5 separate regions of the Homo sapiens genome follow, and all the other regions are linked to region 2. The links come from fine-mapping of genetic effects on gene expression. A gene starts in region 2. Each other region holds a variant in brackets. All regions are shown on one strand. Distances are from middle to middle.

The links. PIP is the estimated chance that this variant, and not a neighbour inherited with it, causes the effect.
Region 1: its variant is the best candidate, but not a certain one, in a credible set for the expression of SERINC5 in prefrontal cortex (ROSMAP, PIP 0.82).
Region 3: its variant is the best candidate, but not a certain one, in a credible set for the expression of SERINC5 in sun-exposed skin (GTEx, PIP 0.50).
Region 4: its variant is the best candidate, but not a certain one, in a credible set for the expression of SERINC5 in T cells (TOPMed, PIP 0.54).
Region 5: its variant is the best candidate, but not a certain one, in a credible set for the expression of SERINC5 in whole blood (TOPMed, PIP 0.89).

What each region holds. Positions count from the first base shown.
Region 1 is chr5:80,190,308-80,196,370 of GRCh38, reverse strand. All of the region lies in intron 2 of SERINC5 (serine incorporator 5), which reads left to right. Among named protein-coding and RNA genes, the nearest start is that of SERINC5, 63 kb to the left of the region's middle. RefSeq lists enhancers at 2,321-2,891, 3,464-4,034, 4,035-4,606. The variant T/C (reference allele first, on the strand shown) is at 2,678.
Region 2 is chr5:80,252,718-80,258,989 of GRCh38, reverse strand. SERINC5 (serine incorporator 5) reads left to right here and starts at 2,942. Exons shown (of 12, transcript NM_001174072.3): 1 at 2,942-3,094. The coding sequence starts at 3,068. RefSeq lists enhancers at 1-908, 909-1,842, 1,843-2,776 and silencers at 2,630-3,069, 3,180-3,459.
Region 3 is chr5:80,138,887-80,145,489 of GRCh38, reverse strand. SERINC5 (serine incorporator 5) reads left to right here. Exons shown (of 12, transcript NM_001174072.3): 12 at 1,680-6,603. The coding sequence ends at 1,827. Among named protein-coding and RNA genes, the nearest start is that of THBS4-AS1, 59 kb to the right of the region's middle. The variant T/G (reference allele first, on the strand shown) is at 2,608.
Region 4 is chr5:80,180,251-80,186,853 of GRCh38, reverse strand. The region is part of intron 2 of SERINC5 (serine incorporator 5); the gene reads left to right. Among named protein-coding and RNA genes, the nearest start is that of SERINC5, 72 kb to the left of the region's middle. RefSeq lists enhancers at 435-1,256, 2,901-3,721 and silencers at 2,233-2,527, 2,793-3,087. The variant G/A (reference allele first, on the strand shown) is at 3,034.
Region 5 is chr5:80,150,440-80,157,042 of GRCh38, reverse strand. It overlaps SERINC5 (serine incorporator 5), which reads left to right. Exons shown (of 12, transcript NM_001174072.3): 9 at 6,095-6,161. Among named protein-coding and RNA genes, the nearest start is that of THBS4-AS1, 70 kb to the right of the region's middle. RefSeq lists an enhancer at 4,570-5,069. The variant G/A (reference allele first, on the strand shown) is at 3,693.

The sequences.
Region 1 (6,063 bases), 63 kb after region 2:
CCAACACTTAATGGTACATCTTTTTTTTATTTTAGTCGCTATAGTGTGTGTGAGGTGGTCATCTCCTCTTTGCCTGTGCCTCTAACACTGCCCTCTGCCCTTCCCGTTCGCTTGCTTTCCCCTGGGGCAGCTTGTTCATTTCTGGCTTTGATCATCCCCATATGTGCATCTGCTTGTAAAAACACCCTTCACTCAGGACAGTGCTGAGGACACTGGTAGATTCTTTCTTCCTGCATCCCCGTTTTTCTAGATCTTGTGCATACTTTTCCCCAGACAGGTCATAAAAGTCTCAGGCTTCCACTCTGCATTCCAGTCAGTCACGGTGATTTGGCCATGCCACCCTCCCTGGTGTTGCATATTACACTTACCTTGTTTGAACTTGAGTAGTTCCCAGATGTTCCCAGCTGCCCTCAGACTTCTTTCTCCAGATAACTTAGCCCGTTAGTTAGGCTGAGCTGAAGGTGCTGTTTGCTACATTTCTCCCAGATGATACCCTATTTCTAAATTCTGGGGTCACCACAGTGTAGTGACTGTAGGTGAATACAGTGGCTACTTTACTTAAAAACAACTTGGATTTCCAAAGGCTATTCATAAGCACATCTTTTAGTCTGTTTACAGTGACATGTTAAAATACTTCTGTGGTTCTTGGAGTTGACAGAGTTCTTTGATCCGTTATGTTTGAAACTCTGAAACTGGGGAGATGAGCTACTTTATTTCCTATTTTTAAACTGAAGAATTAAAATAAATATGAAGCCATAATATTAAATATTCCTTGTGGGAAGCCCTTCTTGTACTGGTTCCAGGGATCCAAAAATGCCTGAAACAAGGCCCCTTAAAGGAGCGAGTTAAAGAGATGAGTGGAAAAAGGCTGCAGCTCGTATGTATAGCAAGTGTTCTGCCTTGAGAAGAGACAGCAAATACGTGTGGTGTTAAGTGTTCTACAGAGAAAACAATGATCTTTTTAGGATATAATTTATTTTTAAAATTTGTATAAATTTATGGGGGTACAAGTGTAATTTTGTTACATTGATATATTGCTTAGGATATAATTTGAATACATTGTTAGAATTTTTTTTTTTTTTTTGCGACAGAGTTTCACTCTTGTTGCCCAGGCTGGAGTGCAATGGCATGATCTTGGCTCACCACAACCTCTGCCTCCCAGGTTCAAGGGATTCTCCTGCCTCAGCCTCCCGAGTAGCTGGGATTACAGGCATGCACCATCACACTCGGCTAATTTTGTATTTTTAGTAGAGAAAGGGTTTCTCAATGTTGGTCAGGCTGGTCTCGAACTCCTGACCTCAGGTGATCCACCTGCCTCCGCCTCCCAAAGTGCTGGGATTACAGGTGTGAGCCACCACACCTGGCCCATTGTTAAGAATTTTTAAAAGCAGAAAAGTCCTAAGTGGTCATCTTAACAAACCTGTCGTTTGACAGGTGAGGAGCTGTGGCCCAGGAAGTGAAGTGGCTTGTCAGAACTGAGACACCAGGTATATCTGGGATTAGAACCCAGGGCTGCTGGTCGCCTGGCCAGTGCATCTCCTGTTTGTGCAACTAGGTTTGCTTGTTGGTCAGATATTCACAGAAGTCACAGTTAAATGCCTTTTATCAAGCATATCCTTCCTCCGCTTTCTAGACTTTCTTCTGGGCCCAGTGGTAAGAAGTATTACTTTTGGAAATAGCGCTGCCTGGGGCCCTCAGCAGCGATCTTAGCTTAGTTACATTTCCCATCTGCCTGCTTCCTGTTGTGATGACCAAAAGCTGAGCTCAAGGGATGACTGTTATTCTGAAGTAGAAAACAGAGGTAGCCACAAAACTAGTATTTATTTATTCAGTGGCTTTACATGTAAAATAGAACTTGTTTTCAGGTTGTGTTTGGTATAACCATCTTTTTAAAACAAACATCATCAGTGAAAAATATTCCGCTTTGATCCAAAATACTGTGCAGTTTGTCCCAATGTAAAATGACAGGTCTTCATGCTGAAGCTGGAGAGTCTGGCTCTTGATTTTCCTTTGATATTTACTGGTTGAATGTTCAGAGCACACTGTACCTGAGACCTGCATCAGGGGCTGGCATAGGCACATTGAAGCCTCAAGTAGAACTCTCTCCATTCTCCGCTTATATGCTTTTGTGTCAGAACAAGTGTCAAATTAACAATAACAAGAAAATATTGCTGACCCAGTTCTTTGATTCTGGAATGCTTTTTTAAAATCCAGCTGAGATGGAGTGCTTTTCAAAAGTTCTCTTTCTGCGTAGCAACTGAGTTCATGGTACTGTTGTACCTTATGTGTCAAGTTATCAAGGAGGAAGTTTTTGAGATTAAAAGTGGGTTGGGACCATCGAACCTCAAGCCCATTGTAGAACTGAGGGAAAATTCTCACCATGACCTTTTAGAATTTTCCTCTGGGGAGCTGGCTTTGAGGTTTTGCCTCTTAAATCCTCTGAGTTCCCTCCCCTCCAAGTTAGGATGACTCTGGAGACATATGTTTCCAAACGGTTTTATCTTTTGGTCTAAATTTCATCCGGAGATAACATGTGAGAGAAAGCAAGGAGTCCCTGTACCCTCCTATGCCTCAGCTGTCATTGCTGGGCCTTATCCTTCCCCATACAAGTGGATGTCGGGAAGTAGTGGTGGGAAATCGTTTTGTACTGGAGGCAGCAATTTGAACTAATGGATAT[T/C]CTGCTGAGAGTCTTTTTTTGAGCCTGAACCAAGGACAAAGAGGTTTGATCCTGGTCCAGTAATAATGAGCTTGCCAGGAGGCAGGAAATTGGAAACAATACATACTGTCCTTGGTCTGTGAGGATCCATTACCTGCACGTTTGCGGGAGCACCAGGTGTCAGCTGGATCTCTTTTAGGATTGGTCTGGCTATGGACGAGAGAGAATGATAAGATGTGAGAATGAAAGTTTTCCTAACACGTTTTTTTCTGTAGTCATCTAAAGCGTCTGTTAAGCAACTGTCCACAGACAGGGCCTCGGAGTAGCCTGCAGATAAATAGAACAGACAAAAGCTTTGGAAATGAGCATTGTCAGCCATCATAAACATGGGGCTGGAGAGAACAGAGAAATGGCACAACGAAGAATGGAAGAAAAAGTAGCCTCAGAGCGATGGGAACAGGAAACAATGCATAGATATTGTGAATGGCTGAATCTTGATACTTACTCTGCATAGAAATTTAATAGGATGATTCTGTGACTTGATTAAACTGTAATCCGAGCTCATTCTTCAAAAGTTTAAAAAATTGCCTAGCTGTCATTCTTTCAGATGCAAGTGGCGAGCACTCTGAAAGGTGCTGGGGATTTCAGAGACACTGAGTAACACACAGTTATTGTCCCCATAGAGCTGGCCCTCAGGTAGGGGAAAAGAGAGCAGTTTGGCAAGTGTGTCTGGAAGGAGCCTGTGATGCTAGACTGTGTATGTCTGAAAGCTAAAAATATGTGAACTCCATTAGTGAATATTGGACAGTGGTGTTGGCTCAGATGTGACTCGGCTGACCTTCGGAGTCACGTGGTAACTCAGGAATGCTCTCTCCCCATTCTAGAGACAGAGCTGAGGTGCCTGGGAGGTTTATAAAATGGAATGAAGTGTTTTTGCCTCCTCATCAGGGCTGAGCATAATCATAAGGGGTTGGGTATTCTGGTGGTGTGGTTTTAAAATTTCAGCGAGACAGTCTCTGCAGTCTTCAAATAGATCTAAAATTATCTTTCGACATGCTGGCTTTCATCAGTGTGGGGTTTATTTTTGGTTCCATGGGGTGTGTTTGTGTGACAGATGTGAGGACGTTTTCTGTTCGAGCTATTGATGGCTTCTGAGCCGCAGAGATGAGCGCTGGAAGCTCATAGACACATTCTCTCTCCATTCCTTCCCACCCCATCTGAAAAACTTTCTGTGGGTGGATAAATTAAGGTACTTTATTTTCTGCTAAAAAAAAAAAAATGACATATGGGAGATACACAGTTTGATTCACTTAAGGCCCAAGTTCCATTTGAGGACAGCCCTGAGGAAGGGAAGAGTCTCATGGGAGAAGGCAGGAGCGGAGGGTTGGGACAGCTGGACCGCAGCCCAAAGGAGCTGCTCTTTTGGCTCTTGATTTGTAGAGTAAGTTATCACCAGTTGTCACTTGCTTTTGAAATGTGCATTTGTACTTAGGCAGTTAACAGTTAGCCACAACTCCTCATCTATTCTTCCTAGTAGCGCAGGGGTGGGGCAGACTTTTCTTACAAAGAGCCAGCTAGTACACACTGGAGGCCCTGTGGTCTCTGTAGCAGCTCTCGCCTTTGTAGTGCAAAAGCAGCCAAAACAATATGCCAGCCAATGGCATGGCCAGCCAACCAGTGTGGCTATGTTCCAATAAAACTAGGAGGCTAGCTGGATTTGACCCACTGGCTGTCGTTGGCTGACTCCTGTGTTAGACCCTCCATGGTCTTATATGCGTTATGTGCAGTTATTCTCCCATCTCTCTCAAAAGGGAAACGTCAGTGACCTGAACATTGTGCTCAGAGTACCAGAGTTCTTGCTTAAGTTGCAGGTAACTGACTAGGCTGTATGAACCACATAGTGGGTAGACTAGGTAAGAATAATGTGGCAATAAATTAGTATGACATGTTTAATAGTAATTATGTCTATATGGCATTTTGGAATAAATGGCAAATTGTTTACAAGTTAAAAAAAAAAAAGTCTTTTTTTTTTTCTTTCTTTTTTTTTTTTTAGAGACAGGGCCTTGCCCTGTTGCCCAGGCTGGAATGTGGTGGCACGATCATGGCTCACTGCAGGCTTAACCTCTGGGGCTCAAGTGATTCCCTGCTTCAGCCTGCTGAGTAACCGGGACCATAGATGTGCACCACGATGCCTGGCTAATTTTTCTTTTTTTTTTTTCTTTTTTTTTTTTTTTTGTAGAGATGGAGTCTCCCTATGTTGCCCAGGCTGGTCTCAAACTCCTAGGCTCAAAGCAACGATCCTCCTGCCTCAGCCTTCCAAAGTGCTGGGATTATAGGTGTAAGCCACTGTGCCCAGCCAGTCATCTTTTTATATATTCTGTCAAAGGACGAAATTACAAATTTAGTTGGAAAGTTGAATTGGATTTTATTTGTGATTCTAGAATGTGAAGTAGAACGACTGTTCCAGTTAGCTGAGCAGAGGAGGGTGTCTTTATAGGCAGAAAAGGCTTGAAAAAAAGCAGAAACAGAACAAAAGGTTAAAACAGAGGATTTCCTTATTAGGCAGACTCACATTGACTAGAATCTTTCAGTGGTTTTTTTTTTTGGTTTTTGTTTTTAAAGAAAACTGGCCCCCAAATTCAGTGGCACTTAGTACAAGTGGCTTCATTTTGGTTCGGTCTGGTCTGCTGGGGCCTAGTGCAGGAGTCAAAAACAATGGCCTCTCCTAAACTTTAACAATCCAAACCAAGCATTTGGTGATCCAGGAAGAAGTGGGGTTGGAGAAAATGAGGGTCTGGGCACCCTAGTTCCCCAGCTGCTGGGCACCATCATTCAATTCCAGGTCTGATATAAGAAAGATGCTGGGGCCGGAAACTTAAATGTCTGCCATGTACTGGTTCCCATCACTAGAACTGGGGAACAGGTAATGGGGCTCTCAAATCTTGAGGTTATAGGTTTGGTGTAGAGTCCTATCTTTTGGGGAACATTAGGTCCTAATGTCCTGCCTAAGGCAAACATCATGACTAGTCCGAATTAACCATGAAAATACTTCAAATATCCATCAAGTAGAGCATAGTTTTGTGCATACAGCATTTCACTAGTAGAACGTTAGCTCTTTTTAGCATGAACTTTTAAACTGTTTTATTCACAGCTCGTATCCCCCTAGTTTAGAGCAATACCTGCACATAGTAGTTGGGAATGAGTGCGTGGATGCTCAAACTCTAGGCTGTAATACATGTGTATGTCATGTAACATATAGTACGGAATGAAGATTATACATGCAAACTCTAAATTCACTGGATTTTTACAAATTATATGCTCATGTCTGTAATCCCAGCACTTTGGCAGACCAAGATGGGAGGATCACTTGAGCCAAGAGTTCGAGACCAGCCTGGGCAACATGACGA
Region 2 (6,272 bases):
TGTGGCACAATCTCGGCTAACTGCAACTTCCGCCTCCTGGGTTCAAGCGATTCTCCTGCCTCAGCTTCTGAGTAACTGGGATTACAGGTGCGCACCACCTCGCCCGGCTACTTCTTTTGTATTTTTAGTAGAGATGGGGTTGCACCATGTTGGTCAGGCTGGTCTCAAACTCCTGACCTCGTGATCCGCCCACCTCGGCCTCCCAAAGTGCTGGGATTACAGGCATGAGCCACCACGCCTGGCCGACATAAGACAGATTAACAGAAGAAAAACCGTTTTAATTACCTGCATACGCAGCAGCACAGGAATCTCACAAAACATGAAGGGCCAGATGATTGAAGCTTATAGCATTCTGAGCTAGAAATAAATAAGGGCTTGGGGCTTCTGTGGGGACAGTGGGGAGGCACCACAGGTAGGATATAGGAGGGTTAGTGGAGGAAATGTATGGTAAATAATGTTGCCTTGTGGCTGCGCGCGGTGGCTCACACCTGTAATCCCAGCACTTTGGGAGGCCGAGGTGGGCGGATCACGAGGTCAGGAGTTCGAGACCAGCCTGACCAACATGGTGAAACCCCGTCTCTACTAAAAATACAAAAATTACCCGGGCGCGGTGGCGCGCGCCTGTAATCCCGGCTACTTCAGAGGCTGAGGCCGGAGAATCGCTTGAACCCGGGGGGCGGAGGTTGCAGTGAGCCGGGATCATGCCAATGCACTCCAGCCTGGGCGACTGAGCGAGACTCTGCCTCAAAAAAAAAAAAAAAAAAAAAAAAAAAAGTTGCCTTGTTATGTAAAGTCTCTCATGTAATAAAAGTTCTCTGAGCAGCTGCCTTCCTGACACAGATACTTTTACTATGTGGACTTCCTTTATAGATGTAAATTTGCTTTACAAAAGGACAGCTTTTCAGAGCTACTCCCGTGTCTGCAGTTTCTCAGAATAACCAGCTTGAAATGTGCCAAACAAGTGTATTTTGGGATAGCATATTTTGGTATTCTACAGTCATAATTTGGGGTGCTGTGGCCTGAGCCTCAGCAGCAAAAAGAGGACATGATTCAGGGTTCGGAGCGCTGGATTCTATTACCAGCTCTGCCCCCTAACCCAGTGGTCTCTTGTGAAAGGTCCTCGAGTTCCGAGTCGAGTCAATTTCCCTAAAAGGCAAAGAGGCATCGGAGTTCCAGCTGGCTTAAACATTTGTAGATTTCGCGCCTTCCCTTTTCGCCCCTCCTTCCTCTCCACCCGTCTCCCCACCCCGAGCTACTAGGGGGCCTGCCCATTTCCCCAGGCCAGGAGTAGGGCTGAAGTGAAGTGACCGCGGTCGTAGCCAACAGCGAAGCTCATTAGAAAGTCCTGGTGAGAGCCTCAGCTTCTGATGAGTCACAGATCGCCACGGAGCAGGTTGCTGCGCTTGACTGATTGGGTTTACCCTATTTTTGTTTTGAGTTAGAGCCAACTGTCCTCATTCCTTTTCGTGGCTCTGAGTAGGGCCTGCTCCATTATATCTCTTTCTCTAAACGCCTGCATCTGAGATGCTGGAAAATCCTGCGCAGCTCATAACCCAAGGCCTGGTTTCCATTCACCTTTCCTCTTCTACTCCTAAGCTGCCCAAGACACTCCTTTGCCAGAGCTCTGTCTGGAAACGAGTCCCTCTAAGGTCAAGCCTTGCGTCATGTGCCAGGGGATCAGACGAGTGGATTCCAGGCCCAGTTTTACTTCCTCAACTTTGCTGTGAGGCTTTGGGCAAGTTATTTAACCTCTCTGGGCTTCAGTTGCCTCACCGCTAAAATGGGTACGGTAATGCTTATTTGAAAGAGCAAAGGGATTGGCGCAAAAATCGCACTAACAGAAATATCTTCATTCCGGCAGGGCGCGGTGGCTCACGCCTGTAATCCCAGCACTTTGGGAGGCCGAGGCGGGCGGATCACCTGAGGTCAGGAGTTCGAGACCAGCCTGGCCAAGATGGTGAAACCCCGTCTCTACTAAAAATACAAAAAATTAGCCGGGCGTGGTGGCAGGCGCCTGTAATCCCAGCTACTCGGGAGGCAGAGGTTGCAGTGAGCCGAGATCGCGTCACTGCACTCCAGCCTGGGCGACAGAGTGAAGCTCCGTCTCAGAGAAAAAAAAGAAAAAAAAAAAAGAAATACCTTCATTCCTCTTGGGGAGGTGGCTGTGAGGACAGCAGATCTGAGTGGGAGAAAACCTAGAGACGGCCTCCCTGCCTTCTGTATGGAACAAGCAATTATTGGGCACCCTCTTTTTAGTGAGGAAGCAGGGACGGAAAATGAGTCCTTGGGCCAGCGCAGGAGGAGAGGCTGGAAAACATATCAATATTCAGGAAGGCACGGAAAGGGCTCTCAATGGATCTCTCACCAAGTGCCATCAGGGCAGAACAGTCAAGGGCCCAGGGATTCGAGGAAGCTTGGGAGGCGCGGAGAGCCCAAAAGTTGAAAGTTTTCTTGGCAGATGAGGGAAGGAAAGGGATTTCAGGAACAAGGATCTCGTGGGTGGGCTGTCCCAGTCGGCGCGCGGCAGAGCGCAGACCAGCACCCGGCGGTCTGGTCTGTGCAGGAAAGGCAGGAACCGCTTACTAAGGCTCCAACCTTTTAGAGGCAGCAACAAGCTCTTTCTCTGGATCCGAAGGCGGAGAGGCGCTGCGCTCTCATTTGGCGAGGGCCCGAGCGCGGCCAGACCGCGCACCAGACCCGGAGCGTGGGGCCCAAAGGCTGGCGGCCGACTCCGGAGCTCGGCGCCCCAACCGGGAAGTGATCGCAGCAGCCCACCCGCCTGACGCCAGCGGAAGTGCGAGCCCGGGTCGAGCCTGCTCCGCCGCCGGGCGCCCGGGAAGGGGCGGGCACGGGGCGGGGCTGGGGGCGGGCGAGGCGGGGCCGGCGGCGGGGCGGGGCTTGGCCGCAGTTGTTTTTACCCAGGCCTCGGCGCCTAGGCGCTTCGCCGAGGCTGATCTTCGTTCAAGTGTGAGCTGCGGCTGAGCCCAGCGCTCGAGGCGCGAGGCAGCCAGGAGGGCCCGTGCGGCGCGGGGAGCCAGCGAGCGCGCCTTCGGCATTGGCCGCCGCGATGTCAGCTCAGTGCTGTGCGGGCCAGGTGAGCGAGGCCGGGCGCAGCGCGGGGGTTGTCAGATCGGAGAACCGGGCCAGGAGTCCAGGCGTGGAGGACCTGCCTGGGTGCGCTCCCAGCTCCGCGGCCGAACGTAGGGCCCGGGTGGGTCGCTCGGGCTGGCCCCGCGGCGCTCAGCCGTCCGGGAAATCCTGTGCCCTGGGCGGGCGGGAAGGGGCAGGGGGAAGCCCGAGAGGCTACCCCGGGGTCTTCCCGTCCGGCCTCCGGGACTCCGCGTGGAGCGGGGCGTGCCGGGCTCGGGCGGAGGATCCCGACTGCTCCAGGGGCGTGTCGCCTCTTGCGCCGAGCACTGGTGAATAGCGCTGAGCTCCGTAGCCCTCTCCACTCTGCTTGTCGGATGAATCCAGGAAGAAAAGTGGGTTTAGGCACCGTCTCCTTTGCTATGCCCTGAATAAAACTCGGGTCAAACAACCCAGGCAGGTTGCGCTTGGCATCTCGTAGTCGAGCGTGGGCTCTGTACCTTTGAGAATGTCTCGAAGCCTGACTTCCAAACTACCGGGCGCAGGTCTGGGCGAAGGGAAAACTCAGCCCTGCTTCCTGAATTTCCCGACCCAACCCTGGCTCGGTACTAGCACGACTGCCTGGGTAGGGCTGGAACCTTCCTGCCTCTCTTTGCAAATAAACTTGTTCGAACCTGTTTTTTAACTCTCGCCTATTTAAACCTATGATGTCTTAAAACATTATGTCTCCTACCAGTTACTGCATCAGTGTAGAATTAGTACGTCTTAGCCCTGTAATGCTGGTTTCACTCCTTCCTGCAGAGTTAGAAAAAACGAAGTAGGTGAGTCTCTTGGATGTGGAGCTCTTTTCTCCCTTTACATGTGGATTATCAGCGTTTCGGTACAGAGTTTTAATGGAGTGTTTTCACGAACGAATCAGACTCTAGGGAGCATCCTGGTTCGGGGTGTTCTTGCTGACACTCAGCCTTTCCACAATCGAGGCCAGCTGTAAGTGATGGAGTGGTTAAACTGTGGGTTTCTGTAACCGGCGATTATACTGGCAGATAATCTGTCCTGTTTAGAGTGGCCACGTGGAGCTGTCTTGGTTTTTGAGGTCTAATACTGTGCTTGGCATACATTAAAGCTGGCCTTTTCAGAGTTGAGGAAATTGAGGCTTTTGACGACTGAGACGAAATGATTTTTTTTCCCTGTGTCAGGCAGAGAGAGAAAGAGAATGAGAATGGTCACCACCTTACCAGGTATTTGAGAACAAGGTGGACCAGGAAAGACTGTTTTCAGAAAGCTCTGCAAATCTTTTATTCCCGTTTTGAAATACTTTTTCTCCAATATGATGCGACACTTTTTATTACGTAGTAATGATACAGCTCTTTAGGGGCATCTGTCCTGGTCCCTTGAAGTCCCCTTGAGGCTCTTTCTGCCATTCCCAAGTTCCTAATTTAGAGCTCTGTAATTACCAGTATTCAAATGGGTTTTGTAAAAGAATTATTTTGCTGTTGATGTTTTAGCAGGTTTCTAAAGTCTCCCCTCTTAGGACTTTGGAAAGAACCAAATCAAAGTTAACCCCTGCTTTCCCAGGCCTGCTGGAGGCATCACTGTGGTGGGCCTCAGTGCTGTGTGATGGTGATCACACTGTGATTTCCTGTGGATGGGGCGGTAGGAAGTTAAAAGAAAAGCAAACAGGCTGGGCGCAGTGGCTCATGCCTGTAATCCCAGCACTTTGGGAGGCAGAGGCGGGCGGATCACCTGAGATCAGGAGTTGGAGACCAGCCTGACCAACGTGGAGAAACCTCATCTCTACTAAAAACACAAAATTGCCGGGTGTGATGACGCATGCCTGTAATCCCAGCTACACAGCTAAGGCAGGAGAATCGCTTGAACCCAGAGGCAGAGGTTGTGGTGAGCTGAGATCACGCCATTGCACTCAAGCCTGGGCAATGAGCAAAAAGAGCAAAACTCCATCTCAAAAGAAAGGAAAGCAAACAAAACCTCACAGCACCGTCAGAAGTTACCAATTCTTGTTTGTTTCTGTGGGCACCTGCCTTTTGCCAGGAGCCTGCTATATAGTCATAAGTCAGACAAGCATCTCTGCTCTCAATGGCCTATCTGGGCAGGGGAGATCATTCATAAACATGTAAACAATGAAACAATGAATATGGTACTGGTACTGTCAGAAGGCCGTGTGGTAAGCAGCCTTGAGGAGGGTTGCCGAGGGAGTCTGAGAAGATGCCTGTGGAGTTGAGACTGCTCAGTGAGGAGAGGCAAGGGAGTCTAGGGTGGCTGGGGTGTCTTAGATGAGGTCAGAGAGAAGAGCAGGACCAGAAATGGCCAGAACCTGTCAGCTGCCTTTGGACTTTGGATTTAATTCTGGTTGCAGTGAGAGGCTGTGGGAGGATTCTGAGCAGGGGCGAGCTGTGGTTTGATTTGCACTTAGAAGATAATTGGGATGTCGTGAAGACTGGACTGTAACGGGCTAGAGTGGAGGTGAGGAAAGCAGTTCGAGTTGGTCATGAAGCAGTTGGTGAGGAAAACCTAAGTGGATATTTGCCTCTTAGGGGCAAGCAGTGTTCTAGGCTTCGGCAGTGAACAAAAATCCTTTCCTGATGGAGCTCGAATCCTGGCAATCTGCTGTTGCTGTAGTCCCAGGAGGAGACAGCGTGGTACCTTAATTTAGGCTATGGCTGTAGGAGTGAGTACAGTGGGACATCATTGGCTTTGGGTATATTTCAGAGGTAGAACTGGATTTGAGCAAGGATTAGAAGTGGGATGTGGGAATGAGACAGGCTCGGTTTCTGGCCTGAGCCACTGGGTAGATGATGATCGCATTACTGAGGTGAAGTAGGAAATTGTTAGGAAGAGGACATTTGGTGAGGAAAACCCAAGTTTCTTGGCTTCGTTACATTAGAGATGCCTATTATAAATTTAATGGAAATGGCAAGTCACCAATTAGGTATTTAGGTCGGGAGAAGTTTGAGGTCGGAGAGAGACATTTTGGTGACTTTCTTTAACTGCGGACCATCCTGAACAATATGTAACCCATAAAAGAGCCTGGGCTTTGGACTCAGGCCTGGGTTTCAATTTGGAAATCTGGACAATGAGGACTGGTGTGACTGGATGAGTTACTTACCCTCTATGACCTCATTTTACCTCAACTATTGAATGGGTACTTCTTAGGGTTATTGGGAAAA
Region 3 (6,603 bases), 110 kb after region 2:
TAAAATACAAACTAAATGTGGAATTATGAAAAGTAACAATGTGGTACCCCCCCGCCTCTACTTCCCCCACACAGATAACCACTGCTAGGATGTGTATCCTTCTCCTTTTCTGTGCATTTATAAACCTCTGTAGTTTTTTTTTGTTTTTAGTTGGAGTCTTGCTTTGTCACCCAGGCTGGAGTGCAGTGGCGCAATCTCGGCTCACTGCAACCTCCGCCCCTGGGTTCAAGTGATTCTCCTGCCTCAGCCTTTTGAGTAGCTGGGATTACAGGTGCTGCCACCACACTGGCTAATTTTTTTTTTTATTATTTTTAGTAGAGACGGAGTTTCACCATATTGGCTAGGCTGGTCTCGAACTCCTGACCTTGTGATCCACCTGCCTCAGCCTCCCAAAGTGCTGAGATTATAGGCATGATCCACCATGTCCAGCTAATTTTTTTTTTAACATAAATGTCATTATACATGTTTTCCCCTGGAGGCTTTTTTTTTTTTAACTTGGCAGTACATGATTGACCTGGCCTTCCCTGGCACTACACAGAGGTTCATACTTTTTCTACAGGTCCACAGCTTTGGTTGTATCATAATTTTTTTGACCACTAAGTTAAGCTTAGACATGTAGGCTCATTGTGCTTCCTTTTATCATTCATTCAACAGATGTGCAAGTGGCTCCTATGTGCCACACGGTTCTATGAGGCAGGATTTATAGTCCAGCAGGAGAGACAGACTATGACGCAAGTCAAATATGGTGTGTTAGATGGTGATGAGTATTGGGGAGAAAAATAAAATTAGGAGAGGGAATTGGGGTAGGGGTGGTGGGAGTGGTGGTTTCAAGCACAGTGATTGGAGAGATTCTTCCTGAAGGAGGAGAGGAGAAGGGAGCTTTAATGCTTCCCAGTGATGCTTTGGGAACTCCTGGGAATTTTTGGCTTGGAAAGCTTAAGAAAAGATGGAGAAGGCTATAATTAAAAAGGCAGATAATAACAAATGTCGAGGAAGTGGAGAAATTGGAACCCTCTTACATTGCTGGTTTGAATGTGAAATCTGCTTTGGAAAAGAGTTTGGCATCTCCTTAAACAATTAAACATTGAGTTACAATGTAATCCAGCTCTTCCACTACTCCTGAGCGTATACCTAAGACAAAAAGAAAACTAGGTCCACAAAACTTACACAGCGGTGTTCATACAAGCATCATTGGTGATAATCAAAAAGGGGAAACATCCCAAATGACCATCAGCTGGTGACTGCCTAAACAAAATGTGCTCTATCCATACAATAAGATACTATTTAGCAGTAAAAAGGAATGAAGGACTGACACATGCTGCCGCGTGGCTGAGCCTTGGAAATTGTATGCCAGGCAAAAAAGCCACACACAAGAGACCATGTGATTCCTTTTATATCAACTGTCCAGAATAGGCAAATTCATAGAGGCAGAAAGTAGATTGGTGAATGCGGGGGGTGGGCTGAGGGGGCCATGGGGAAGGGGAGAGCACCTAAGGGGTGCATGATTTCTTTTGGGGGTGATGAGAATGTTTGGAAATGGGTAGTGTTGATGGTAGCACAAGTCTGTGTATGAATACATTGAAAGCCGTTGAATTATACATTATAAATGGATGTGAATTAGTGAATTGTATCTCAATATATTCCTGCTTTGACCGCGGCTAGGTGTCTTGTTTCCACAGCTACGAAAGTGCCAACATCGAGAGCTTCTTCAGCGGGAGCTGGTCCATCTTCTGGGTCAAGATGGCCTCCTGCTGGATATGCGTGCTGTTGTACCTGTGTACGCTGGTCGCTCCCCTCTGCTGCCCCACCCGGGAGTTCTCTGTGTGATGATATCGGCGGTCCCCTGGGCTTTGTGGGCCTACAGCCTGGAAAGTGCCATCTTTTGAACAGTGTCCCCGGGGCAGGGACTGGCGCCCTGTGCCTGAGTGGGTCTGAAAAAGCTTTGAGAGAGAAAAAAAAAAATCTCCTGATTAGCTTTTTACTTTTGAAATTCAAAAAGAAACTACCAGTTTGTCCCAAAGGAATTGAAATTTTCAACCAAACTGATCATGGTTGAAATATCTTACCCCTAGGAACTGGATACCAGTTATGTTGACTTCCTTCTGCATGTTTTTGCCAAAACAGAATTTGGGGCACAGCATCTTTTCACAGGGATAAAAATATCTTGTGGGGCCAGTCATTCTCATCCTCGGAATAGAAAAACATGCCAAAATCTTGAGTCCCCAGCGCCTAACAGAATCCAGACCCCTCTCACTCACTTCCGCCTCTTAGAGCCTTGTCCCCAGGGGGCTTTGAGGACAGGACTCAGCCTGCAGGGCCCCTGGTATTTATAGGGTCCAAGAGGAGGCACCTGCTTTTCAACTGCACCCTCAGTGCTGCCTCTTCACGGCCCCTAAACGTTTCCCTTTGAGGTTGTGATGCTGGGAATCACAGACTTCACTCTCTGCCTGCACCCTTCCCCGAGGTCTCATCTTTTCTGGGTCCCACATCTTTGTAATAATGTGAAAAAGCACAATTTGTCTGATCACCCCCCAGGTGGTTCCCCACCTTATTATCACTACCTGATCCGAGTTACTGCAATAAGTACGGCGCTTATTTATGGTGTTA[T/G]TCACATGATTATAGAACAAGATTCATGTTTTCTCTGCCTAAGCAATGGAGGGCTATCATTCTTACTTGTTTGTGCTGTTGATAATGATAATACTTTTAGGACCTTAACTGAAAAGCTGCTTCGTGTTGAAGCCTGCTGCATGCACTGCTCTTTCAGTTGTTGAGGTCAGCCCCTCAGTTTTTTCTCCACCTTGAGGCCTTTGAAACTGTAAAAGCGGAAGTCGTTTTGTGTTCTGGATCTGTAACGTGACCATACCGTTCAGGTTCATGCTGGCATCCTTGGAGTAGGTTTGCTAATGTGAGAATTTCTGAGGTGAGGATCTCAGACACACTGACCAGAAGAAGCTTGTTAGGCAATGTGTGGAAGTGGCCGAATATACTTAAAAAGAGGTGCGCAGAGGCAGGCGGATCACTTGAGGTCAGGAGTTGCAAGACCAGCCTGGCTAACATGGTGAAACCCTGTCTCTATTAAAAATAGAAAAATTAGCCGGGCATGGTAGCGTGTGCCTGTAATGCCAGCTACTCGAAGGCTGAGGCATGAGAATCACTTGAACCCGGGAGGCGGAGGTTGCAGTGAGCCGAGATCACGCTGCACAGGAATTTCCAAAATACGTACTTGCAAAGTAATACAGAAACGTGACTTTCGGCAGCTACCCAAGATGATGCCTATTTTCAGTGTTGATGTATTCAGGCAGGGAAAAGGTTTACTTGGTGGAAACTCCTGTTAGAATTTCATTCGGGGTGGAAAGAATCTTCTCGAGCTCTCTGTAAGTGAGGATCTAAGAATAAAAGGCTCAGCCTAGTCATTTTTTTCTGTGCCCTACTGTATGAGTTGGGCAGAATTGAGTGCCACCTAAGCTGGGCTTCTGTGTGCCAAAATGCTGGTGGGTGAAATTAGTGAAATTCTTTCTATTCATTCCTTTGCCCTTCTCCCAAGAAAACCCATGGGGAAACAAATTACAGGGGATGAATTCCTTTAGAACTTTCCCTACTTAGAGTGTTTGAGATTCAGTTTCAAAAGGCACTCCATCTGTGTGTGTGGTTTAGAGAGCCTTGTTTTGTAAATTCCATTAAATTTCCTTTTTTAGGGCAGGAGCTCTGTACTCAGCAGTTAAAAGATTCATCTGGAGTCGCAAAATGAAAAGCCGTGTTCTAACCTGAGGAATCAGTTAGGGGACAGGAGTTCCGTGGGCCAGGAATGGGCTCAGGGAGTGGGGCTGCGTGTCACACACAGTAGCTGTGTTGCAGTGGCCTAGGGCCTTGGGGGTTGTCTTTAGGAAACACCCTGAGGGGAAGCAGGTAAAGAGCCTGGGCAGTATTGTGACTAGTTTCATTGTTTTCCTCCTGCTGAGGTCTAGCAGAGCCCTTGCTTTGTCCTCTCGGCTGGGTCTGGCTGCCAGCTGGTGTGATTTGAGAAACTGACCTTACGCGCAGTCAAGGTCCAGCTGACAAGGCCTTGTATTCCTTGGCTGGCCGTGATTGGCCCTTTCCTCTGCAGAAAGCAGCTTAGGGAAGCCCAAGCAAGGGAGTGTGGCCGGTAGAAGGCCCTCGTCGCTTCCTTCTGGAGCCAGCCCAGCCACACAACGTTTTCCAGATGCGTGAGTCTGGTTTGTGACATCCCGTTCCCTTCTGCCGGTTGGTCTGATGCAAGAGGAAGAGTTACAGTTGCTCTGAATTTTATTCTCAGCTGAAAATGTTAGCACGTGTATCTGGATGAACAAAACAGATGTGGATGTATCTGAGGATTGAGGGACTATCAATGCAGAGTTAATGTTAATGGTTATTAATTGTGATATACAATACTCAGGTGAGGAGTCAACATTCCTGGATTTAAAGAATCTACAGTTTTGTGCAATTGTGATTTGAGAAACTGGAAACATTGTGCCAATGGCTTTGAGTTCCTATAACAACGGTGTTAATTTGATTAACTCACTGATATCTTTTAAAAATAATAGACATTTGCTTCCTACACCTTTTTGTACATGACCTAAAGAGTATATTCCCAGAAGCTGCTGGTCAGACACATTTAGGGATGACAGTTGAAGAGGACTTTTTTAAAGCTGCATGTGAATATTTCCTCTGTGTGATTTGTCTGATGTAGAAAAGTTTTCCCCTCATTTTTATGAGTAAAAACACTAAGTGGGTGGCAGGGGGGTGGGGGTTCTTATGGGAGTGTCATACCGCGGCATGTTACCTGACTGGAGACTAGAGACTATTTCCATTATAAGCCTTCAGAAACCCAACCACGTCTTTACTGTGTCTAGCTTTTTAAATACTGATTGGTTAGTTTTATTTTTGCCCACAGTTTCTTGGGCAAAAAGGTTCTTCATTTTGTCTGAAAAAGAAATTATTTGCCAGAGGTATTTGGAGCCTCTTTGAAGGGGAGATAGAGTGGGGGTGGGTTGTGGGGAGGGTGGAGTTATTGGGGTTTTGGGGTTCTGTTTCCATACAACATTGTTTATTTCCGATTCCTCAGAAGATCCTTTATTATGAATAACCTCAGTGTAATGTTAATTTCCTGTCCCCATGTCAAAATTGTCACCCTAAGCCTTTTTTTTTTTTTTTTTTTTTTTTTTTGGAGACGGGCTCACTCTGTCAGCCACGCTGGAGTGCAGTGACATGATCTTGACTCATGGCAGGCTTGACCTCCTGGGCTCAAGGACCACCTCCCAAGTAGCTGAGACCACAGGTTTGCCCCATCACACCTGGCCGATTTTTATTTTTTTGTAGAGATGGGGTTGTCCAGGCTGGTCTCAAACTCCTGAGCTCAAGCAATGTGCCCGCCTTGGCTTCCCAAAGTGCTGGGATTATAGGCGTAAACCACTGCACGCAGCCTACCCTCTGCCTTTTTAAGATGATGTATTTATTTAATTTTTGCCATCATTGGTGCTTCACCTTCCTGCGAAGGAAATTCCAGAGCCTGTATTTAAGCTACCTAGGCTTTTACACTCCCTTTATTGCCTTTCCAAATAGTATCTCATTTGGTGTACTCTAGTGTCCTATACCTCTTGGAAACGAAAGAGGGCCCAACCTACAACTAAGAAGGGACAAACCTTGAACTAAGTAAGACCTTACACACCCAGAAAGAACACTGGGCCCTCCTTCTTCAGGGACAATGCAGTAGCCACTTGGCTTGTGGAATTTACTGAAGGCTATTTCCTGTAACTTGCTAGTTAACTTAGTTTTGTATTTCAGGCAGAGGTGCGCTCTGTAATGTTGGGCCTTTGACTTCACAGTACTGGAGAGCTGTTCACACAGATGTTTAGACCTTTCTCTCTCTCTCTCTTTTCTTCTTTCTCAACAACTCTTTCACAGAGGCAGTCATTTTGAAAGGTTGAAATATTTGGCCTTTACCAAAGAGCTTTTTTTTTCCTTAAGCAAAATCCTTTCAGAAAGAAACAAATGGGGAAGGGCAGATTAAGAATGCATATGTCCCAATCCACTTCTATAGGAGTTTAATCATATTCACATGAGTAAAATGATGGAAGAACTCTTTAAGGTAATCCTTTGGGATAAAGGATCCTGGGAAGTTCTCTCAGGTAAAGAAAGCTTACAGCAGATTTGTAATATATGTCTGGAGAGCTATTTATAAGAAATTTAAGAGGATTGTTTTGTTTTCCTTTATTAAAGATTTAAGCCTTTTTACTTTGCAAAAAGAAAACTACAAAAGTTTTATAGATATAACTTTGCTAATTTTTTAAACTTTTCTGAAACGATTAGCTGTAGCCAAATTATGTGGTTACGTTTTGCTACATTAGAATTTGAAAATGCAATATGTGTGGTAAATCTACTGTTTGAAATTTATAATGGTCTCTGATATGATTCGAATTTTGGTAACTTTTGAAAGTTATTTTCCCCCTTTAGTCATGGATTTCTATTTGTTTTTTAATGTTAATTTTTCTAGAAAGCATCTGAATTGACTAGGCTTTTCCTATATAAAAAACTCAAAACTTGTTAACTCTGTACTTTAATAAAATTTAAAATTAAAACTGTGTT
Region 4 (6,603 bases), 72 kb after region 2:
TCAAGTAACACGATTACACAACTACAACTTTCACCTACTTCCTCTCCATTTCTTAAGAAGCCACTCCCAAAACTTATACATGTTTTCTATGTTTGTAGCATCTGGGCCCCTGGCCAATTAGACCTGTAGGTCTTCCTGTAGCTTTTTTGTTGTTTATTTGCCTGGGATTGAAGTTGTTTTAGGGACATAGCTAGCATCTCTCCTGTGTAAACAAAATTACGTGAATTTTCTTCTCCCTTGCATCTTGTTGAGTTTATTACTTGTTTTCATGTTTTGGAAATGTTTTTCCTAATTTGTGAGTTCAGAATGCTTTCTTCTGGATGGTGGCTAGGTCTCTGAAGGACAAGTAGTGAGTGCTATTTTTTGGACCTCAGTTCTAATATAAATGTACCAAGGAAAGATTCACCTTACTGACAGGTCGGGCGCGGTGGCTCACGCCTGTAATCCCAACACTTTAGGGGGCCGAGGCGGGTGGATCACCTGAGGTCAGGAGTTCGAGACCAGCCTGGCCAACATAGTGAAACCCCATATCTACTAAAAATACAAAAAGTTAGCCAGGCATGGTGGCAGGCACCTGTAATCCCAGCTACTCGGGAGGCTGAGGCAGGAGAATCACTTGAACCTGGGAGGCAGAGGTTGCAGTGAGCTGAAATCGCACCACTGTACTCCAGCCTGGGCGACAAGAGTGAAACTCTGTCTTTTTTTTTTTTTTTTTTTTTTTTTTTTTCAAAACAAGAAAGTTAATCTTTCAATCCAAAGGTAGTAGATCCTTTGGTAAAGTGAATAGAGCATCTACTAATTCTAAGATGTTCAGTTTCCCACCATGTTTAAATCGGAATGCATTAGTTTGTGGATCATGTAATGTACCTGAGTCTCTTCCCCGAAATTATTTTTATATAATGTCAGGCCTCTGAGCCCAAGCCAAGCTATCGCATCCCCTGTGACTTGCAGGTATATGCCCAGATGGCCTGAAGTAACTGAAGAATCACAAAAGAAGTGAATGTGCCCTGCCCCGCCTTAACTGATGACATTCCACCACAAAAGAAGTGTAAATGGCCGGTCCTTGCCTTAAGTGATGACATTACCTTGTGAAAGTCCTTTTCCTGACTCATCCGGGGTCAAAAAGCTCCCCCACTGAGCACCTTGCGACTCCCATTCCTGCCCACCAGAGAACGAACCCCCTTTGACTGTAATTTTCCTTTACCTGCCCAAATCTTATAAAACGGCCCCACCCTTATCTCCCTTTGCTGACTCTCTTTTCGGACTCAGCCCGCCTGCACCCAGGTGATTAAAAGCTTTTATTGCTCACACAAGCCTGTTTGGTGGTCCCTTCACACGGACGCGCATGAAATATAACATAATAGTGCTTTAGAATTAAAGAAGTTAACTTAATGACTACTATGGGTTAGGAACCGTGGTAAGCACTTCACAGGTGTTATCTGATGTAATTCTCAGGCAACTCCATGAAATGGGTGTCGGTATTGTTTCATTTTACAGATGGCACAACTGAGGCTCAGGGTGTGTATGTGTGTAGCTAGCTCAAGTTAGCAGTGGAGTTAGGAATGGAAGTCTTATGAGCTGTTTATTCTTACTTGATAGTTTGTGGCTTTGAGTTTGGTTGCTTTGAGGGTTGGAGGGAAACGCCTTGTTCTCAGGGGTCTGTATAGAAACAACATACAGCCTGCATGCGGTGGCTCACGCATGTAATCCCTGCACTTTGGGAGGCCGAGGCAGGCAGATCACCTGAGGTTAGGAGTTTGAAACCAGCCTGGCCAACATGACAAAACCCCATCTACTAAAAATACAAAAATTAGCTGGGCATAGTGGTGTATGCCTGTAATCCCAGCTACTTGGGAGGCTGAGACAGGAGAATCGCTTGAACCTGGGAGGCAGAGGTTGCAGTGAACCGAGATTGCGCCACTGCACTCCAGCCTGGGCAACAGAGCAAGACTGCATCAAAAAAAAGAAACAACATACAGTGTGTGAGCCTGGCTTAAGTGCCCTGTCCTTGGGTGCCCAGAGCCAGACTTAAGAGGTAACACCCTTAGCAGGCACATTCCTTTCACCCTGTGGTGTGGAATTTGTATGTGATGTATTTTTTCTTTTTCCAAAAATGGGGTGGACTTTGGAACAGCAAATATTTAATCGGAGCAAATTCCCCTTGCCAGAATCCTGCTAGCTTGTTCACCTTGGAGGTTCTTTGCCCAAAAATACTTACCACATACTGAAAACTAAATGTGCTAAGTCACCCACAGAGTATAAAGGAGGTCTTGATTAGGATTTGGAGCAGGGGGGTTGTTTACCTGTTTTTGATGAATATACAGTGTCAATGTACTCACCCTGTGATGAGCCTTAAAGGGCCCTGGCCGCATTCCAGATTCTGGAGTAAGCAAACAAGGGAGGGGATTTGTTGGGGATGGTGGCTCAGCCTGCTGCTGTTAGCATTCTCCTTGAAATGGATTTTGGAGGAAGAAAAAAGAGGTAGGGAGGCAGAGAAGGTCTAAAGGTGAAAGATGGGCTGGTATAGATGAAAGAGGTGCTAATGTGCATGTGTTATGGGGAAGATGTGGTTCAGGAATTAGAGTTGCTGATGGAGTAGAAGAGAGAAGGTGGGGAAGAAAATAATTTAGGGAATGTTTTAGAGCAATAAATCCTGTGTAAATGAAACAGCCTAATGAATGAAGTGGTATGGCTTCTCCATGAATGTAGCTTTTAGAGATTCAAAGCAATATTACCTCCTCGTTACTGGCACTACTCATACAGGTGTAACTTTTGTTTTGGGTTAGACTCTCTGAAACATTCATTTTTGTGTGTGTCCCCTACCATATTTCAGCACCTGAAAATTTTAACCATGCTGTTTCATCACTCATGTTTAAACACAGCTAAAAATTGAGGTTCCTCCAGAAAGCACCTGTGTGACTGACTTCTCATTACCCGCCTGCGGGTGCTTCCTTTCATGCGCGTCGGTGTGAAGAGACCACCAAACAGGCTTTGTGTGAGCAACATGGCTGTTTATTTCACCTGGGTGCAGGC[G/A]GGCTGAGTCCGAAAAGAGAGTCAGCGAAGGGAGATAGGGGTGGGGCCGTTTTATAGGATTTAGGAAGGTAATGGAAAATTACAGTCAAAGGGGGTTGTTCTCTGGTGGGCAGGGGCGGGGGTCACAAGGTGCTCAGTGGGGGAGCTTCTGAGCCAGGAGAAGGAAATTCACAGGGTTAATCACTCAGTTAAGGTGGGGCAGGAACAAATCACAATGGTGGAATGTCATCAGTTAAGGCAGAGCAGGGCCTTTTCACTTCTTTTGTGATTCTTCAGTTACTTCAGGCCATCTGGGCGTATACGTGCAAGTCACAGGGGATACGTGCAAGTCACAGGGGATGAGATGGCTTGGCTTAGGCTCAGAGGCCTGACACTTCCTGTATCCAGCCCCAATTGCTGTTCTAAAGCAATTTCCAGACCAGACTGTTCTCGCTGGGATACCCCTTGGTGATGCCCTAAGGTGTTAAAGAGCAAACTCCTGCTTTGTTCTTCACTTCTGCTGTCTGTCCTCTGCCCTCCACCCTCCCTCCACCCCAAACGGCAATGCCATAAAAAAAGAAGAAAACAAAACAGCTTTGTCTCATTCTTGTGCTTCATTCTTGTCATCTGTGCTCTCCTGCCAATTGTGAGCTCTACCTGCAGAATCTCTGGTTTCTCTGCCTGGGGTTACCTTCTTCACCTGTTCCCAGTGGCCTTCAAACTTGTCCCCTTGCCTCAAGTCTGTACCCTTTCACCACGTCTTCCACTTTGTAGCCAAAGGTGTTCTAGCTTCAGTAGTGCTTTTCCCCTTGCTTACAGGATGGGGGCCTGACTGCTAAGTCTGGCATGCACCTGGCCCTTCCCAGCAAGACCTTGCCTTTGTAGAGAAGGGAAAAATGGCTTCCTTCCACTCTTCTAGGTTCTTTCTCTGGAAGCAAATTAAATTGACATAAGACCAATTACAGGAGAAAAAGCAATTTTAAAAAGGGTCAGATAGGCTGGGCATGGTGGTTCACGCCTGTAATCCCAGAACTTTGGGAGGCTGAAGTGGGCGGATCATTTGAGGCCAGGAGTTCAAGACCAGCCTGGCCAACATGGTGAAACCCCATCTCTACTAAAAATACAAAAATTAGCCAGGCGTGGTGGCAGGCGCCTGTAATCCCAGCTACTCTGGAGGCTGAGGCAGGAGAATCACTTGAACCTGGGAGGCAGAGGTTGCAGTGAGGCGAGATTGCGCCACTGCACTCCAGCCTGGGCAACAGAGGTCTCAATTAAAAAAAAGCGGAGGGGGGGGGGGCGGTCAGATGATAGAAGCTTATGGCATGTTGAGCTACAGAGAGGAATAGGGGCTTGGGGCCTCTGGGAGTTGCTGGCAACACGTAATGGGAGAGTGAGGGGAAGAAATGTATGGTGAATAAACGTCTGATACACTTTACTAATGTAGATTTCCTCTACAGATGTAAATTTTTTGTATAAAACAGCAGCTTTGCAGAGCTACTCCTGTGTCTTCAGCTTCTCAGAATAACGAGCTTGAAATACGCAAAGAAGAATGTTTTAGGGTGGCATATCTTGGTTTTTGTGAGTGACGCCAAGGTCAGAGGTAACCAGGTCCACGAACATTTGTGTCTTTCCATAATGTTGGACTTAACTGATGCTATTTCAGTTACAAAAGCCACCAGCTATGTGGAGTTCCCAGGGAGCCAATTCTTCTTAGTACTTCTCATCCACTCATTAGATCTGCAGGCACACAGGTTCCAGCCTCTGCACCAGCCAGTCAGTATTGCAAACCGTACACAATCGTATACTCTGTCAATATATAAATGTTACTGATTAAACATTGTGCAACAAACAAAATAACATTTAACATTAAGAGAAAGGGAATAGGAAAAGGGTTAATGAAGTAGTCCAGGGAGAGCAATAAAGAAAAAAAGAATTTCCTGGTCTGGGCTGGTTAATCTGGTTGGTTGTGCAAGAAACAGTCTTTGATGTGGGCAGAGCCTTCGGGGCAGATGCCAGGTGCTTGTCACGAGTTAGAACCGTACCTACCCTTTTTATGGCCACAGAGTCCTCCAGTGAGGACTGATAGTTGAAGACTGTGCTTGTTTATCTACTTATCTGGTTGGATGCAGTCTTTATCAAGCAAAACATCTTGTCTCTGTTGTGACAAAATGGTGTAAAAAAAAAGTCATAAAAAATGTACAGTTTTAGGAATTTGCTGAAAACAAAATGTTGGCTATTTCCTCATGAAGTCTTTCACATGTCTTCATGAAAATGGAGCTGGCCAGGTACAGTGGCTGACACCTGTAATCCCAGCACTTTGGGAGGCTGAGGCAGGTGGATTGCTTGAGTCTAGGAGTTCGAGACCAGTTTGGTCAACATGGTGAAACACCAACTGTACACACACACACACACACACACACACACAAAATTAGCTGAGCTTGGTGGTGCATGCCTGTAGTCCTAGCTACTCAGGAAGCTGAGGTAGGAGGATGGCTTGAGCCCTGGAGGCGACGGTTGCAGTGAGCCAAGATTGCGCCACTGCACTCCAGCCTGGGTACAGAGTGAGACCCTGTCTCAAAAAGGAGTGGGGAGAAAATGGAACTCTTTGTTTGTTTGTGTAAAGGAAAATAAACCCTCTCAGGACTGCCCAAACTCTTTATGCCAAATGGAAACTTAAGACTGGAGAGACAGTCACGTGACACTGCTGCTGTCCCCTCGCACCTTGCCCCCCTGCCCAGTAGATAGCTGCGACTTCCCAACCTTGTGTCAAAGCGCTATGCATTAGCCACACCCCTGGAGAAGGCAGAAGGCCTCGTGCATCCCGGATGACTGCCCTCAAATTGCTCATAAGTAAATTCTCTGCTGGTCCCTAAACCTTTCAAGATGTGTATCTTCCCATAAAAAAGGACATGTCAGCTGTAACTTTAGGTCTGCAATCTAAGTCTAGCTCCCTGTCCACGGAATTGCAGTCTGTTACATTTCACACTGACAATGCCCATTACAAGCTTATCTTCCCAGGTGCAGAACAAAGACAGGACAGCAGTCATTTCTCTGCCTACCCTGAGACTACATAATTAACTCTTCCTTTACTCCCTTTTTGAATGTTTATCATATCTCTTTTATAGCGGAGTTTACTGGGCACTAGTTAAAATCTCAGGAGAATGTTGCATTTGCCTCACCACCTGCCCCCTTTTCCTGCATGCCTTCTCCCCTTTAAAGAAATGGGTAAATACCGAGCAACCTCTTTGGGAGCGCCAGCCACAGAGGATTCTGTGATTTGTGTGTTTCTCAGCAGCCCCTCAAGCTCTGGCTTAATTATTCCCCATTGAGACTCTTGCCTCAGTCTCTCATTTGGGTTGACATTTGTTTATGGAAATCGTGATAGCCACAGATATTATTGTTTCTTCAGTATCTTTTTCTGGAGAAGAAACTGTAAATTATCTTCTTTATCACACTTTCCTTTTACCTTCAGTTTTGTGCTATTTTTTCTCTGTGATACTTTATTTTTCTTATGAATAATAGTTATAATGTGATTTATTTTCTGTTCAGAAGAGTGTTCAACTTTGATGTTGATAAGAAGCAAGTTTTTAT
Region 5 (6,603 bases), 100 kb after region 2:
CCAGCCTGGGTAACGAGAGAAACTGTATTTCAAAAAAAAAAAAAAAAAAGAAAAAAAAAACCCTTTAAATAAAGTAGAGTTTGGATTTGCCATAAACCCTTCAATGGAAAAGATGGCAAAAATTCTTCTTAGCCTGCTGCATAATGGTTACCACACATAGGGCATTTCACAACATGGAATTTTCACCCTATCATATTTTCTCACTATTTCTAGCAGGTGTAAAGAATTCTTCTGAGTTGGCCCTTGAGTGAGAGATGATAAATAAAATGTTGTTTCTTACAGGACTGAGGTACCATAGTGGAGATTGGTAAGGGCTGGTCTGATATTCCCAAAAGATGTCAATTTTCAAAGTTGATAGCTACTAAAAAAAAAATCTGTCTAAATACCAGCAACAAACATTGTTATTGAATTCGTAAACCACAAAACTGCAGTGTATGGTGGGATGAGAACATATAAAACTGCAGCCCCTACAAAGTGGAGATGAGGATGACCACTCTGCTCTGTAGCGTACTTCTGTAATCTGTAGGCAAGAGCACACTCTGTGGGCTGGGCCCCCTAGGAGTTAGTTCCCCCGGGGTCCATGTGATTGATGTTTGCTGTAATTACTCACTGCAGCTCTTCGAGGGGTCAGCTTTAAGAACACTAAATTCAGGCTTTGTAGGGCCTGGGAATAAAAGGAATGCTGTAGGGGTGGGAGTTAGCCCAACTAGGGTTTTTTCAGATCTGGACTTCTGAAGAGTTTGTTTTCCTTCCTGACTCAGAGGAATGAAAGGTTGGAGGATGTTACAAAAAGGCCACATCGTCCGTGTGGGAACTGTCATTTGAACATAATTGCAGGAATATCTAGGATTCTTGATAGAAATTGCAGGAAGCCAGAGACTATAGATAGTATGTAAGTTAAAAGGAGAAGAAGGCCAAGATTGCCTGGGGTCCACTCTTGTAAAGTTGTAGAAGACTGGAAATCTCCCTAGCTCCTCTCTTTCCCTTCGCCCTCCAGAGCCCCCAAGCCCCACCCCCAAATACTTGTTTCCTTTGGGGTATCTCCATCCTGACTCTTGCAGCTGGGGTACTCTCTAGGAGTATGTTTTAATGTTTGTAGCCTCAGCTCAGAAGAAGGGCTCAACCCAAACCTACTCCCTGCCTTTCTGCCTGGGGCTGCCTTCTCTCCAGAGCCTCCTTCCATTGCACCCAGGAATCATTGCTGTGAAAGAACATCATAGCTTGGACCCCATGTAAGCCCTAACCTTGGTCCACTTGTGGGAGTTCTCTGATAGCTCTTTTTATTTTTTTAGATAAAAAAAAATGTTTTAAGGCAAGTTCTCACTATGTTACCCAGGCTGGGTAAACTGTCCTTAAGGGATCCTCCTGCCTCAGCCTCCCAAGTAGCTGGGACTACAGGCATAACCATGACACCTGGCATTCTGATGGTTTTCTCTCTCTCTCTCTCCTTCTTTCTTCCTTTTTTTTTTTGAGACGGAGTTTTGCTCTTTCACCCAGGCTGGAGTGCAATGGCAGGATCTCAGCTCACTGCAACCTCCGCCTCCCAGGTTCAAGCGATTCTCCTGCCTCAGCCTCCTGAGGAGCTGGGATTATAGGCGCGTGCCACCACGCCACCATGCCCGGCTAATTTTTGTATTTTTAGTAGAGACGGGGTTTCACCATGTTGGTCAGGCTGGTCTCGAACTCCCAACCTCAGGTGATCCGCCCGCCTTGGCCTCCCAAAGTGCTGGGATTACAGGCGTGAGCCGCCATGGCCAGCCCTGATGGCTCTTTCTATAGGCGCATCCCTCCACACCCCTTTAGTCTGGAGCTTTGCTGTGACAAATCCTGGCCTCCACGAACTATTTCTTAATTCTTCCCTTGGTCTCTGGATTTTGATTGAAATTGTTATTCTGTTGCCTTCAACTTCAGACTGTCAGCCTGGACAGGATCCCAGAGTTGATCAGGTCAGTCTCCTCATTGTACATGTAAGGAAGCATGGAGCCTATACCTGTAGCTCTCTACTCCCAACTTCGGGCAACCTTTCCTTGAGGCTCCTTTTCGGGAGTATTTAGGGACACTGGTGGATAGTCTCTCCCCGGCTCTTTTTCTTCAGATGGCTTGGTGTAATGTCCCCTGAGGGAGAAAGATAAACTGGATGACTTGCGTAATTATATTATTACAAGGCATTTGCACTATAAAGTTTCCTGACCATTCCACTTTTATCTGTGTTTAAGAGAAAAAATAATTCTTAATATTGAACCATCTTTGAAAATATCCTTTTAAATATAAAACTGGAAAAAGTAAGAATCTTTATTCAATGTCAAACAACTTCCTAGTTTGAAGTGGGGAGGTTCGCAGGTTGGTGTGATAGCATTGCCGAGGGGATTGTTCTACATTAAAAAAAGTTGGGAAATCAAGGAAGAATATTTATTTTTTTGGTACATTCTGGGCCTTTATGGGGGGGTGGGGAAATTTGTATCTTCCCCACCAGGAGAGGGGGAGATTTGTGTCTTCATTTTGGGAATTCTGCTCTGGCCTGCCTGCCAGCTAGAAATCTCCAAGTTAGAAATCTTCCACCCCGTGGCCAGGCGTGATGGCTCACGCCTGTAATCCCAGCACCTTGGGAGGGCAAGGCGGGTGGATCGTCTGAGGTCAGGAGTTCAAGACCAGCCTGACCAAAATGGAGAAACCCCATCTGTACTAAAAATACAAAATTAGCCGGGCATGGTGGTGCATGCCTGTAACCCCAGCTACTCGGGAGGCTGAGACAGGAGAATCGTTTGAACCCAGAAGACAGAGGTTGTGGTGAGCCGACATCGAGCCATTGCACTACAGCCTGGGCAAAAAGAGTGAAACTCCATCTCCAGAAAAAAAAAGGAAAGAAAGAAAAAGAAATCTTCCACCCCATGCCCCAGGTTCACAGAGAGCTCAGGTCTCCTTTGGGTTCTATAGCACAGGGGAGCATGACTGATCTTCATCATTGCACAAAGGCTGGGAATAGTCACGGGATCTGTCAAGGGCCTACCCTGTACGTTTGTCAGGGAGGCGGAATGTGTGATCTCCAGGAAAGTTTGGACGTGTTATTTAGAGATTTTCTGTGGTCTAGTGGACTTTGGCCAGCTTCAAAAGCATCTGCAGTGCCAGTGTTGAGGGGCACCTGCATTGTGCATTCTTCTGCCAGTGTGAAGGGGTTCTGGGCACTGTAGTGGTTCTGCAGGGAAACAGGACACGGCTTTTCTTTTTTTTTTTTTTGGCTGTCACCATGACTGCAGAGCACTGCTGGCATTTTGGCTGGGTTGGGGTGGGGTGGCAGCAGGCAGAGACAGTAAACACGCTGTGGTGTGTTAGGCATTCTCCGTACAATAAAGCATTGTCTTAACCCAATGCTGTAAGTCTCCTCCTATCCCCACGGGAAATACTGGGTTAAAGTCACACCTATCTTAGCACAGGAAGAGGTAAGGCTTATAGGTAACCCAGGAATTGTTTTATAGCAATTTGTGCTGTGCTCACCAAACAGTGGTCTTTGTAATAGCCTGAATGCAGATAATAAGAATTTCCTAGGCTTTAAGAGCTTATAAAAAAAAAACCTTTTCTTGATAATTCCAAGAAGAGTGTTGTATGGAGAAAGGCTACAACTGAATAAAGATCTTTTTTTTTTTCCTGCAACATCTGCCTCCCGGGTTCAAGCAATTCTCTTGCCTCAGTCTCCC[G/A]AGTAGCTGGGATTACAGGCGCCCCCCACCATGCCCGGCTAATTTTTATATTTTTAGTAGAGACAGGGTCTCACCATGTTGGCTAGGCTGGTCTCGAATTCCTGACCTCAGGTGATCTGCCCGCTTCAGCCTCCCAAAGTGTTGGGATTACAGATGTGAGCCACCACGCCCGGCAACTGAATAAAGATCTTAATGTAGGGTAACATCTACCTGTAGAAGTCACATGGCATTAATGATGCTCTGAATGTAGTTCTTTTTAAAAGTAAAATCAAAAGCTTCCCCATGTTAGGCCTCTTTGATGGTGAAGTGGCAAAGGAGCCCAAATCAAGAGCTTTGTTTTCCGGAAATTACGTTAACCCAAAGAATTTATAGAGTAGAATATTTACTCTGAGGCTTTGTTTTTCTTTTTGAGACAGAGTCTCACTTTCTCGCCCAGGCTAGAGTACAGTAGCGTGATCTCAGCTCACTGCAACCTCTGCCTCCTGAGTGTCAAGCAATTTTCCTGCCTCAGCCCCCTGAGCAGCTGGGATTACAGCTGCCGGCCACCACACCTGGCTAATTTTTGTATTTTTACTATAGATGGGGTTTTGCCATGTTGGCCAGGCTGGTCTGGAACTCCTGACCTCAAGGGATCCACCCGCCTTGGCCTCCCAAAGTGCTGGGATTACAGGCGTGAACCACTGCACCTGGCCTATTCTGAGCCTCATAAATAATGAATGTTAACCTTTCAAATGAAAATTTCAGATAGTGATCTCTTCTTAAAATTAAAAACTTATCTTTTCCCCTGTGAAAACTATACACTGTACTAAATCAAAACTTGTATGCACAGGATATGTGCCACTCTTTTTTTTTTTTTTTTGAGACAGGGTCCTTCTGTCACTCAGGCTGAAGTGCACTGGTGTGATCATGCTCACTACAACCTCCCAGGCTCAATTTATTCTCCTGCTTCAGCCTCCCCAGTAGCTGGGACTGCAGACATGTGCCACCACACCTGGCTAATTTTTGTATTTTTTGTAGCGACAGGGTTTTGCCAAGTTGTCCAAGCTGGTCTCGAACTCCTGGGCTCAAGCGATCTACCTGCCACAGCCTCCCAAAGTGCTGAGATTACAGGTGTGAGCCACCACACCCAGCCGGGCCACTCTTAAATGTCGGATTAGGTGTTGTGTTCCTTGGGTGCGCAGTCATTGGGAGATGTTTCTGTCTTCCTCTGACCAGGCACACAGTCAGGAGGTGGAGTGGCATGGGCCTGGATTAGCATGCATCAGTTCAAAGCAGAAATGAAAGTGATGCTGTTGTACTTGAGTGGACCACAAAAGAAACAGTGAACTTGGATCTCAGTGGGCTTCTGTATGAGAAAGCTTTTTATTGTTTATCTCTGTCTCATTGATCTCTCTCCTTGGGAAAGAGGATGAGACTGCGCAGTGTTGCCTCATGGGGTTCGCTGGATTGAGATGAGTGTGTGTCCCCACCTTTCCATGAGCAGACCAGCTTCTTGAGCACCAACACGCCCGCCCATGTCAGGCCAGCACAGAAGCTACATGACGGCAGGATTGTTGCCTGTGTCACTGAGTCCCCAGTGCTTAGAATCGGGCCTGACACATAGTGGCCTTCAGTAAATATTTGCTAAATCAATCTGTAAAGTTAGCTGGAACCCTAAGTATTGTATATATTTGCTTAAAATGTTCTGTGTTTTTGTTTTGTAGAGATGAGGTCTTGCTATGTTGCTCAGGCTCTTCTCAAACTCCTGGCCTCAAGTGATCCTTCCACCCCTTCCTCTCAGAGTATTACAGGCATGAGCCACCACTTCTGGCCTGTTTTTGTTTTCAGGAAAAATAAATTATTTTGCCCCATGCAAGGCAATTTGTCTAACATTTTACCTTTCTAGGTCTCAGGGAAGTGGCAGAATTTTTTATTACCTCGACTGCTACTCTTCCAAACAGCAAGCCTTGTTCTACTATAGGCTATCACAGTAAATAACTGCGACTTTTGCTTTCATGCCCTTGCTTTCTGTTGCCATCTCTGGGCTCGTTGCTTTTGATTCCCTCTAAGCAAGACTAGTCAAAGGGAGGGAAAGATAAACTGAAATTAGAAAACTATTGTAGCATTTGAGGGAGGAGAGGCAAAAAGCAATACTGAAAACCAAGATATCTTACTTCTCTACCTACAACCTTCTTTGCATAAAATGATCTAATGCAATCCATGTAAAATGATATCAACTATAGAATAAGCCAGCCAATTTTGGAATAAGGAGAGGTATTAAAATAGATTGCTTTGATTTAAGTCTCCTGAACGGTAGGTTACATTGAGGCTCTCGTCGGAGCACTGGCCAGCCGGCTTTCCCCTTCATTCCATGTGTTGTAATGTGTTAATATGCCCAGCTGACGTTTTTGTCTGTTTCTTAGTTTGACATCAACAACAAGATCGAGTTCTGACGCTCTGCAGGGGCGATACGCAGCTCCTGAATTGGAGGTAAGTTCATTTCCTTTTCCTGTCCTGCTTCATCTCAGAAGATCCATTTCTCAGGAGGGCCTTTTGTGTTTGTGTCTTTATCAGTCTGCATTCCGTGATCCTGTTTTTCTGCTGAGGAAAGATTTTTGTATAGAAAAATAAATGCTGGCCGGGTGTGGTGGCTCACGCCTGTAATCCCAGCACTTTGGGAGTCCGAGGCGGGTGGATCACCTGAGGTCAGGAGTTCAAGACCAGCCTGGCCAACATGGTGAAACCCCATCTCTACTAAAAATACAAAAATTAGCCAGGCATGGTTGCTCACACCTGTAGTCCCAGCTACTTGGGAGGCTGAGACGCGAGAATCACTTGAACCCTGGTGGCAGAGGTTGCAGTGAGCCAAGGTCATACCACTGCACTCCAGCCTGGGCAATAGAGTGACACTTTGACTCAAAAAAATAAAATA